Linked DNA regions of Homo sapiens. The gene in region 3 interacts genetically with the main gene of each other region. Each region holds a gene or a part of one and is shown on either strand. Other genes may lie near its edges. The genes, in order: MASTL, LIAS and TCOF1.

What was found.
Region 1: changes in TCOF1 (region 3) and MASTL together harm fitness more than expected from each alone (negative genetic interaction), as found in Homo sapiens cells (one large-scale study listed by BioGRID).
Region 2: changes in TCOF1 (region 3) and LIAS together harm fitness more than expected from each alone (negative genetic interaction), as found in Homo sapiens cells (one large-scale study listed by BioGRID).

The regions. Positions count from the first base shown.
Region 1 is NC_000010.11:27,161,753-27,165,410, reverse strand, and holds part of MASTL (serine/threonine-protein kinase greatwall), read right to left. Parts: intron 348-3,658; coding exon 241-347; intron 23-240; coding exon 1-22. UniProt on the Homo sapiens protein: Serine/threonine kinase that plays a key role in M phase by acting as a regulator of mitosis entry and maintenance.
Region 2 is NC_000004.12:39,468,958-39,472,615, reverse strand, and holds part of LIAS (lipoyl synthase, mitochondrial isoform 1 precursor), read right to left. Parts: intron 2,598-3,658; coding exon 2,452-2,597; intron 1,381-2,451; coding exon 1,310-1,380; intron 1-1,309. UniProt on the Homo sapiens protein: Catalyzes the radical-mediated insertion of two sulfur atoms into the C-6 and C-8 positions of the octanoyl moiety bound to the lipoyl domains of lipoate-dependent enzymes, thereby converting the octanoylated domains into lipoylated derivatives.
Region 3 is NC_000005.10:150,395,644-150,398,349, forward strand, and holds part of TCOF1 (treacle protein), read left to right. Parts: intron 1-638; coding exon 639-1,199; intron 1,200-2,706.

The DNA.
Region 1 (3,658 bases), on a different chromosome or scaffold from region 3:
TTTTTTCTGCAATTGGTGTGTTCTATTAAAAAGAGAAAAATAAAAACAACAGGTTTACCTTCCCCAAAACACCACCTAAGTACATAGACTGTTATACCACCTAAGTAGACAAACTGTTAAAGTAAATCCAAATGCTTGATATTTAAATCTATTTTGATCTTTTTTTTTAAAGGTGATTTTAAATTTTAAGTGGTGATCATGAAGGGGTATGTCATGTTAATTTTCTTCTCAAGTACTTACAAATCCCAACGAGCTGATAAGCGATAACACTTGTCCTGGGGTTCTTGAATAATCTTGTCTAGGTTTTGCCATTGATGGTGTTGTAAGGATATCCATCATATTAATATCTATGTATGCAAAGAAAAGTATATAAATGTATTTAAAACCTTTACCTCCCATTGACTAAAAATGAATGTTATGTATATGACAACAAAACAATTTTTTGTAAACCAAATGTTAAAAAAGGAGACAGTGGCTGGGCACGGTGGCTCACACCTATAATGCCAGCACCTTGGGAGGCTGAGGCAGATGGATCACTTGAGGTCAGGAGTTCGAGACCAGCCTGGCCAACATGGTGAAACACTGTCTCTACTAAAAATACAAAAAGTAGCTGGTCTTGGTGGTGGGCGCCTGTAATCTCAGGTACTCGGGAGGCTGAGGCAGGAGAATCACTTGAACACGGGAGGCGGAGGTTGCAGTGAGCCGAGATCGCGCTACTGCACTCCGACCAGGGCGACAGAGCAAAACTCTATCTCAAAAACTAAATAAATAAATAAGGAGATGGTATGGAATCAATATTAATTTTAGGCCCCTCACGTTAGCTAATATGTTTAAGCCTAGGTCAAGATAGAAACTGACCCAGATTATTAGCATGTTTCAGTGCATAATATTTTAAAATAATTCAACACTGACACATAATACTATACTATTCCACTTAGATATAAAAAATGGTAAGAGAAGTCTAATGTTCTTATCCAGGCATGGTGGCTCACATCTGTAATCCTAGCACTTTGGGAAGCCAAATGGAGAGGATCCCATGAGCCCAGGAGTTTGAAACCAGCTTGGGCAACATAGTGAGACCTATCTCTACAATTTAAAAACTAGCTGGGCATTGTGGCAAGCACCTGTAGTCCCAGCTACTGGGGAGGCTGAGGTGGGAGAATTGCTTTTCCCAGGAGTTCAAGGCTACAGTAAGCTATGATCACATCACTGCACTCCAGCCTGGGTAATACAGTGAGACCCTGTCTCTTAAACAAACAAAAATAATCCCAGAACTCTAATGTTCTTATAGGACTTTTTAAAATTAGCTGGGTGTGGTGGCTCATGCCTCTAGTCCCAGCTACTCGGAAGGCTGAGGGACAAGAATCGCTTGAGCCTGGGAGGCAGAGGTTGTAGTGAGCCTAGATCATGCCACTGTACTCTGTACTCCAGCCTGGGTGACAGAGCAAGACTCTCTCTCAAAATAAATAAATGAATGAATAGGCTGGGCGCGGTGGTTCACGCCTGTAATCCCAACACTTTGGGAGTCCAGGGCGGGTGGATCACGAGGTCAGGAGATCAAGACCATCCTGGCTAACATGGTGAAACCTCATCTCTACTAAAAATACAAAAAATTAGCCGGGCGTGGTGGTGGGTGCCTGTAGTCCCAGCTACTCAGGAGACTGAGGCAGGAGAATGGCGTGAACCCAGGAGGTAGAGCTTGCAGTGAACTTAGATTGTGCCCCTGCACTCCAGCACTCCAGCCCGGGCAACAAAGCGAGACTCTGTCTCAAAGAAAAAAAAAAAAAACAAATAAGTAAATAAATGAAAGTATACTGAAAGTTTTAACAACAAATGTCATTTATGCCTCACATTGATGAAGTGATAATAATAATACACGTATATGATATTTTACAAAAAAAGTTTTATTAAAATTAGACCCTTATGATAAACAAAGTGACTTAAATTTATCAACAATTTTATCTTAATGCAAAATTTTTGTCATTTGTGATATTTTCCAATAGCTTATCTGAAATCCTTAGAATCAGATTTCGAAATAAGATTTCAAAGTCAGATTTCTTTGAAATCACAATTCAAAAATGTTTAGATTTTAGAAAAGTAATGTGGTAAATATACTGCATATTATGAAATATCCCTAGTGGCAAATCATATGAATAATCACATGAACTGGAATCAACAGACTATAAATACCCCTGGCCAGGCACGGTGGCTCATGCCTGTAATCCTAGCACTTTGGGAGGCCGAGGCGGGTGAACCACCTGAGGTCAGGAGCTCGAGACCAGCCTGGCCAACATGGTGAAACTGTGTCTCTACTAAAAATACAAAAATTAGCTGGGCGTGGTGGCGGGCACCTATAATCCCAGCTACTCAGAAGGCTGAGGCAGGAGAATTGCTTGAACCCGGGAGGTGGATGTTGTAGTGAGCCGAGATCACGCCATTGCACTCCAGCCTGGGCAACAGAGCAAAAACCCCATCCCAAAACAAACAAACAAACAAAAGACTATAAATACCCCTACATCAGCATAGATCAGATTTTACCAAACTTAGTAAAAAGTTTTAGGTATTCATAACTGTTGAACTTTGTACTTCCACATGAAGAATTGTAGATCTGCATATATTTTCAAATATTAATAGTTATAATTCCAGAGTTTTTAAGTCCAATTTCTGGTTATTTTCATTATTAATACTTTCCCATCCGTCTACACTTTCTAATAGAGAATACAATATGTTTCTTTTTTTTTCGAGATGGAGTATCGCTCTGTCCCCCAGGCTAGAGTGCAGTGTCGTGATCTTGGCTCACTGCAACCTCTGCCTCCCAGGTTTAAGCAATTCTCCTGCCTCAGCCTACTAAGTAGCTGGGACTACAGGCGTGTGCCACCACACTCAGCTAATTTTTGTATTTTTAGTAGAGATGGGGTTTCATCAGGTTGGCCAGGCTAGTCTAGAACTCCTGACCTCAACCTCAAGTGATCTACCCGCCTCGGCCTCCCAGAGTGCTGGGATTACAGGCATGAGCCACGGCACCCGGCCAAGAATACAATATGTTTCTAAGTTGATAATCAATCATTTATCCATGTTTCTATGATGAACTTAAGTAATTTCTAGTTTCTCCCTATTAGAAACAATGTTGCTACAAGTGATTTCATTTATGTGTATTTTGTTCATTTGAACAATTTCCTTAGAATAAATTCCAAAGCATAAGCCACTAGATCAAAGAGAATTAAAAACTTTTATATTTAAAAACATATTGGCAGATTTCCTCCAGAAAGCACTATGCTAATTTACAATGCCCCCAGAAAAATATTAGTGTGCTTTTTTGGTAGTATTACTAACTGGACCATCGGTATTCCTTTCTTTTGCCCATTTAATAGTGTAAGATGGTTCATTTACTCTTTCTTATATTAGCATTTATTTAATTACTACTAGTGAAAAGAACACAGTCCCATATATACATATATGTGTTAACTGTGTATTCATTTTCTTTGTCCTTTTGTTGATCAAGGTCTTAGTGGTGGCCGTGTATATTTGAATATGTTTTCAGTTATTAACCCTTCATCATGTTATAGTTATTCTGGTCATTTTACTGATGCTTAATTGGTAAGAATCAATTTCACTTGGGATAAAAGTCAGAAAAACAGAAATTGTGAGTTCCTCTGTG
Region 2 (3,658 bases), on a different chromosome or scaffold from region 3:
CTTTCTTCGCCTCTGGCTCTAACATAACAAAAACAAGTTACACAATAACCAAGTGTAAATGAGTGCCATTTCCCAACTTTTAAATTCTTTTTCTCTAGGTTCACTTGAGTTGTGAAATTTGTGAAGAGAATGGGGGAGGCAGCAAATATGTGCAAACGTAGCTGATTTATGTAGATAATAAAATGAAAACTGGGACTTATAAGAATACAGCTGAGCCTTGAACAACATGGTAACTGCACAGGCCCACTTATACAAGGATTTTCTTCCATTTCTGCCACCCCTGAGACAGCATGACTAACTCCTCCTCTTCTCCCTTGTCCTCATCTACATGAAGATGATGAGGATGAAGACCTTTATGATGGTCCACTTCCACTTAATGACTAGTAAATATATTTTCTTTTCCTTATGATTTTCTTCAAAAAATTTTTTCTCTAGCTGACTTTATCATAAGAATAAGATGTGTATATATGTGTGTGTGTGTGTGTGTGTGTATATGTGTGTGTGTATATACAGATATACACACACACATACGTATATATATAAGTACATGTAACATACAAAATGTGTGTTAATTGACTGTTATTGGTATGGCTTCCGGTCAACAGAAGGCTATTAGTAGTTATGTTTTTTTGGGAGTCAAAAGCTATACATGGGCTGGGCGCAGTGGCTCACACCTGTAATCCCAGCACTTTGGAAGGCTGAGGCGGGTGGATCACCTAAGGTCAGGAGTTCAAGACTAGCCTGGCCAAAATGATGAAACCCCATCTCTATTAAAAATATAAAAAATTGGCTGGGTGCGGTGGCTCACGCCTGTAATCCTAGCGCTTTGGGAGGCCGAAGCGGGTGGATTGCCTGAGCTCTCAGGAGTTCGAGACCAGCCTGGGCAACATGGCAAAATCTTGTCTCTAAAACTACAAAAAAATTAGTCGGGTGTGGTAGTGTGTGCCTGTAATCCCAGCTACTCAGGAGGCTGAAGCATGAAAATCATTTGAACCTGGGAGGTGGAGGTTGCAGTGAGCCGAGATTGCCCCACTGCACTCCAGCCTGGGCGACAGAGCGAGACTCCGTCTCAAAAAAAAAAAAAAAAAAAAAAAAAAATTATATATATGTATATTTTAGCCGGATGTAGTGGCACCCGCCTGTAGTCCCAGCTGCTCAGGAGGGTGAGGCAGGAGAATCACCTGAACCCAGGAAGCAGAGATTACAGTGAGCCGAGATTGTGCCACTACACTCCAGCTCAGGCGACAAGAGCAAAACTCCATCTTTAAAAATAAAAAAAAAAAAAAAAAGCAAATCAAGATACATGTACCTTAAGGTGACGCCTTGTTGGCTGCATATATTGTCCTAAAGTCAAGCAGTCTACATCTGCCTCACGAAGTGCTGTAGGAAGAAAAGCACAAATTACATTAGCAAATACTTTAATTGTAGATCTAAGCATAATTTTCCTAAGGAATATTTAAAAACGGTGTGAACTTTATGACAGTCCATAATCTTCATGTTGGGGAATAAGACAACATCTATTCATTCAAAAGTATTATGTGCCAGGGACTGTGGTAAGGACTGAAAACAATAATAATTAAGACAGTCATGTAGGGCTGATACATACAAGGATAAATACTTCTAATACTATGGAATCAATGCTAAAATAGTAGTGGAGGGTATTTTAGAGTAGGAGTCTGGTAGAAAAGGTATGGGAAATGGTATATGCAAAAACCTCAATGCACCTATATTATAGAGCAAATATGTTGCATTAGGCTTTTACTCAATGCACAAGATATGCTATGGGGGCTGTGATTTAAACTATGACATATCAGAATCTTTCTAATAAACTGTGTGCAATGTGGTAAACAGCAGGTCTTGATTATTATATGAACTTATTACTCTTTGAACCACTAAATAACTACAAGTAGTCCAAGGGTCCTCAGCTAAAATTAAAACTTTGAAATTCCAAAGTTTAAAAAGTCCAAGAATCACAAAGCAAATGGACTTACGGGACTAAAGTTCAGCAAAGTCCAAAGCACACCATGTTATGTGACAATGCTACAAGTAAGCTCTTTCTCAGAGGCCTGGATTAGTCTCATTGATCTATGAACTGTCAGTGCCTGGTACCAGGCTGGCTCTCCAAAAGTGTCCAATGATAGAATGAGAAAAGTGGATGAAATCATGCTTTCAGTGGATGCAAAGGATGGGGAATAAAATGGGATATAAATTTTGTATCCTGAGCGTCATGCATATCACTCCATGAAATTCCAAGAAAATTTATTTCCTTTGCTTTTTTTTTTTTAACTTGTATTTTAGATTTGAGGGTGCATGTGCAAGTTGGTTTCCTTTTCATGCTGCCATCTATAACCATATACTTTTCTTTGTTCTTAGAAGGGCCTTCAAAGTGAGTGGGTTCCTGCTATTACTCAAATTACATGGGAAAGATTTTTCATTTTTCAATTTCTTTACCTTTCATTGTTGCATATACTTGCTCATCATTCTCGCCTAAACCCAACATTATAGATGTTTTAGAAATAACATCAGGCTGAACCTTCTTGGCATGTTTCAGTACACGTAGGGACTGATCAAAATTGGCCCGAGGATCACGAACCTTACTGGAAAACAGCAGGACTGTTGTCAGCAAGAATTACAAGTTCAACCAAGTACATAGTTATGCAAGCAACCTGAAAGACCAGAGAAGTACATTCTGCACATTATCTTAAATCACATAGTTCAAAGGTAGCATTTATGCACAGATGCCTGTTAATTTAGGAAAGAAAAGGCCTCACTGGGCTCCCTAGTTCTATCTCAAGCCTGGGGCAGAGAAAAGTAGAATGGAAGAAATTACTTCAGTTTATGCATTGAGAAACCAGAATTCTGAAGCGAAAAATTAGAAGAGAAAGGAAAAAAAGCAGAAGTAAGAGAGTCTCCATACTGAACAAAGAAAAAAATAAGCTGAACCCACATGTCAGAGGGTTGAAACTTTCAAGTTCATTTCTTTTCTGAAGACTAAGCTGCCCTCTGCTGGTAAGTATACAACACTGCCACATATTAGGTAAAGAAATGCATGATTCTGGAATTTTCACTGGAAAGGATCATGTTTTTAAGTGAAACCAGGGAAACTGGCACCCACTGGTGGTGGTATCATGATGAGGTTGGAACAGGCTGTGTCCTAGACTTCAACAATGGCCAAACCACCATGGCTTAAATGACTTATCCTTTAAGCCAAAAGGCCAGAAAGCTTCTGATGTTAAACTGGATTTCATTTCAATTCTAATGCAGCTTTATTTTCTGTAATTGTTTTTCATTGGAGACTAGTTAACAGGAAAGAGAAGAAACAAATTTATGAACTTAAAAGTAACTGAAACTGACATTATAGAAATCACTTTTTAACAGAATTTCTCCACTGAAATTAAGTTATGGTCTCTACTGTTTATGATTTAGTGAAAATGGTGGTTATTGTTTACTGTAACTTCTTTCAGGCTCTATGACACAGATCATATGTAGAAGCTAATAAAATCACTGCTAAATGCTAAAATTAAAGAAAAAAATGATATTACTCTTGCCCGAAGCTTAAAATGTTCATTTTTCTAAAATTTGAATGGATGTGGATAACAATCCTTACTTTTTTTCTTACATCAGTGTTACTTGCCAATGATTAGTCTTAATTACTGAA
Region 3 (2,706 bases):
AACCTGCTTAGTCAGCCACCACGTGTATATACACTGCACCCAGAGCTCCCCACCTTGCCTGGACCCCCTGACCAGGAAGGGCCGAGTGTGGGTAATCATCAGTTGAATGTCTGCATGGCCCCCACTTTTATTATAAATCTACAATGTATCATAGGAAGCCTTACTGTTCATCCACCCCTCACGTTATAGACAGGGAAACCAAGGCCCTGGGAGGAGATGGGTCCTGGCCAGAATCACACTGAAAGTGGGTGGGAAAGTCAGACCTAGAACCCAGGTCTCCTTCCTCCCAGCTCCAGACTCCATCTCCCTCCTTTCTGAATTTTCATTCCATTGATAGATTTCAGGCCCTTTCATTAACATTCTGGAGTCATTTTCTGTCCCCCACCCTAACTGGAGTTTTTAGTATAAAGAGACAGGGAAAAGCTGTAAGTTAGAAATGAAGTCAGGGTGTGAAATTGGTGGAAAGGTGTGAGCTTAGGAGACCAGCTGGGGCAGAGTGACCGCCAAGCCTTGCTCTCCCCATCTGTGCCATTGTAAGAAAAGATGGAGTCACTCCCTGCACCCTCTTCGCTCTTAGGTACCATAAGATCTGTCCCCCAACTCTCCCAGATCTGTGACCCCACATTCTCTCTCCATAGGTGGAAAAGAGGCTGCTTCAGGCACCACACCTCAGAAGTCCCGGAAGCCCAAGAAAGGGGCTGGGAACCCCCAAGCCTCAACCCTGGCGCTGCAAAGCAACATCACCCAGTGCCTCCTGGGCCAACCCTGGCCCCTGAATGAGGCCCAGGTGCAGGCCTCAGTGGTGAAGGTCCTGACTGAGCTGCTGGAACAGGAAAGAAAGAAGGTGGTGGACACCACCAAGGAGAGCAGCAGGAAGGGCTGGGAGAGCCGCAAGCGGAAGCTATCGGGAGACCAGCCAGCTGCCAGGACCCCCAGGAGCAAGAAGAAGAAGAAGCTGGGGGCCGGGGAAGGTGGGGAGGCCTCTGTTTCCCCAGAAAAGACCTCCACGACTTCCAAGGGGAAAGCAAAGAGAGACAAAGCAAGTGGTGATGTCAAGGAGAAGAAAGGGAAGGGGTCTCTTGGCTCCCAAGGGGCCAAGGACGAGCCAGAAGAGGAGCTTCAGAAGGGGATGGGGACGGTTGAAGGTGGAGATCAAAGCAACCCAAAGAGCAAGAAGGAGAAGAAGAAATCCGACAAGAGTGAGTGACCGCTTCTCCCAGCCCACCCCAAGGGCTGCTGGGCACCCCACGGGGGCGGGAGGGACCCTCAGCCAGCACCTGGTCTCATTCCTCCCATGTAGAAAAGAGAGGCTGAGACCAGCCTGGCCAACATGGCAAAACCCCGTCTCTACTAAAAATACAAAAAATTAGCTGGATGTGGTGGCGGGCACCTGTAATCTCAGCTACATGGGAGGCTGAGGCAGGAGAATTGTTTGAACCCGGGAGGCAGAGCTTGCAGTGAGCCGAGATCACGCATTGCACTCCAGCCTGGGTGACAGAGCAAGACTGTCAAAAAAAAAAAAAAAAAAAAAGGCTGAGAAGTGGTTTGTCCAGAGTCACAGGGGCAGCTTGTGGCAAAGCCCGAACTCGATTCCAGAGCACTTGAGTCAGCACTGCCAGGAATGCTCCAGAAGGACGAGGAGTCATGTCCTCTTTCCCCAAGCCCAGTGCAGCAGATCTTGGAGGAACCTGCTTCTCCAGCCAGCTCCTGGGTGCAGAATGGACCAGGAACCAGACTGTCAGAATCCTCATCCCAAACCCCATCTTGTCTCTAGACCTCAGTTTTCCCTCCATAGTAACACTGGCCCTTTACTGAGTGCTGTTCTAGACTCCGCATGCAGCAGGACCTCATTTAGGTAGAAATGAGACTCAGCAGGTAGAAAACTGCGGCTCGGGCTCGGAGAAGTAGAGATGCTGTTCAGGGCCACAGAGTTTTGCTAGGTGGAGCCAGAGTCAAACCTAGGCAGCACTCTCGAGCATCGCCCTGGACGGTGGGTTGCCAGTGACGCCCGAAGAGCCAGCTCGTTCTGGAACAAAAGTCGGGCACCCTCAGAGCAGGACTTGCAGCCCCTTGGTGCTCAGAACTGTGCTAGATTTCCATTTACAGTAGGGATAGATAGTGTCCATTTAAAATAAATTTGCGGGAGTTTTAAAAAGTGAGTTGAGCTAAAGAAAAATGGTAGTCATCCAGGTGGTCCATGGATGGGACAGAAATCATGAGCTGGCCTCCAGGGGGCAGGTGAACTGGCCCTGCTGGGTGATCACCACAGCTGCCAGCCTGTTTTATTTTTATTTTTTGAGACAGGGTCTTGCTCTGTCACCCAGGCTGGAGTTCAGTGTCAGGAACGCAGCTCACTGCAGGCTCAGCCTCCCAAGCTCAAGCGATCCTCTTGCTTCAGCCCCCCAAATAGCTGGGACCACAGGCGTGCACCACCATCCCCAGCTAATTTTTGTATTTTTTGTAGAGACAGGTCTCACTATGTTGCCCAAGCTGGTCTTGAACTCCTGGGCTTAAGCAATCCACCCGCCTCAGCCTCCCAAAGTGCTGGGATTGCAGGAATGAACCTCCACGCCCCGCCCTGCTGGCCTGTTGTGATGGCTTCTGGTGGTGTGGGGAAAGCTGGGAGCCCTGCCCTGTGCACCTCCCAACATTGACCCCAGCACTTAGGATTACCATCTGTTGTTCAGGAACTTTACTTTACTTCCC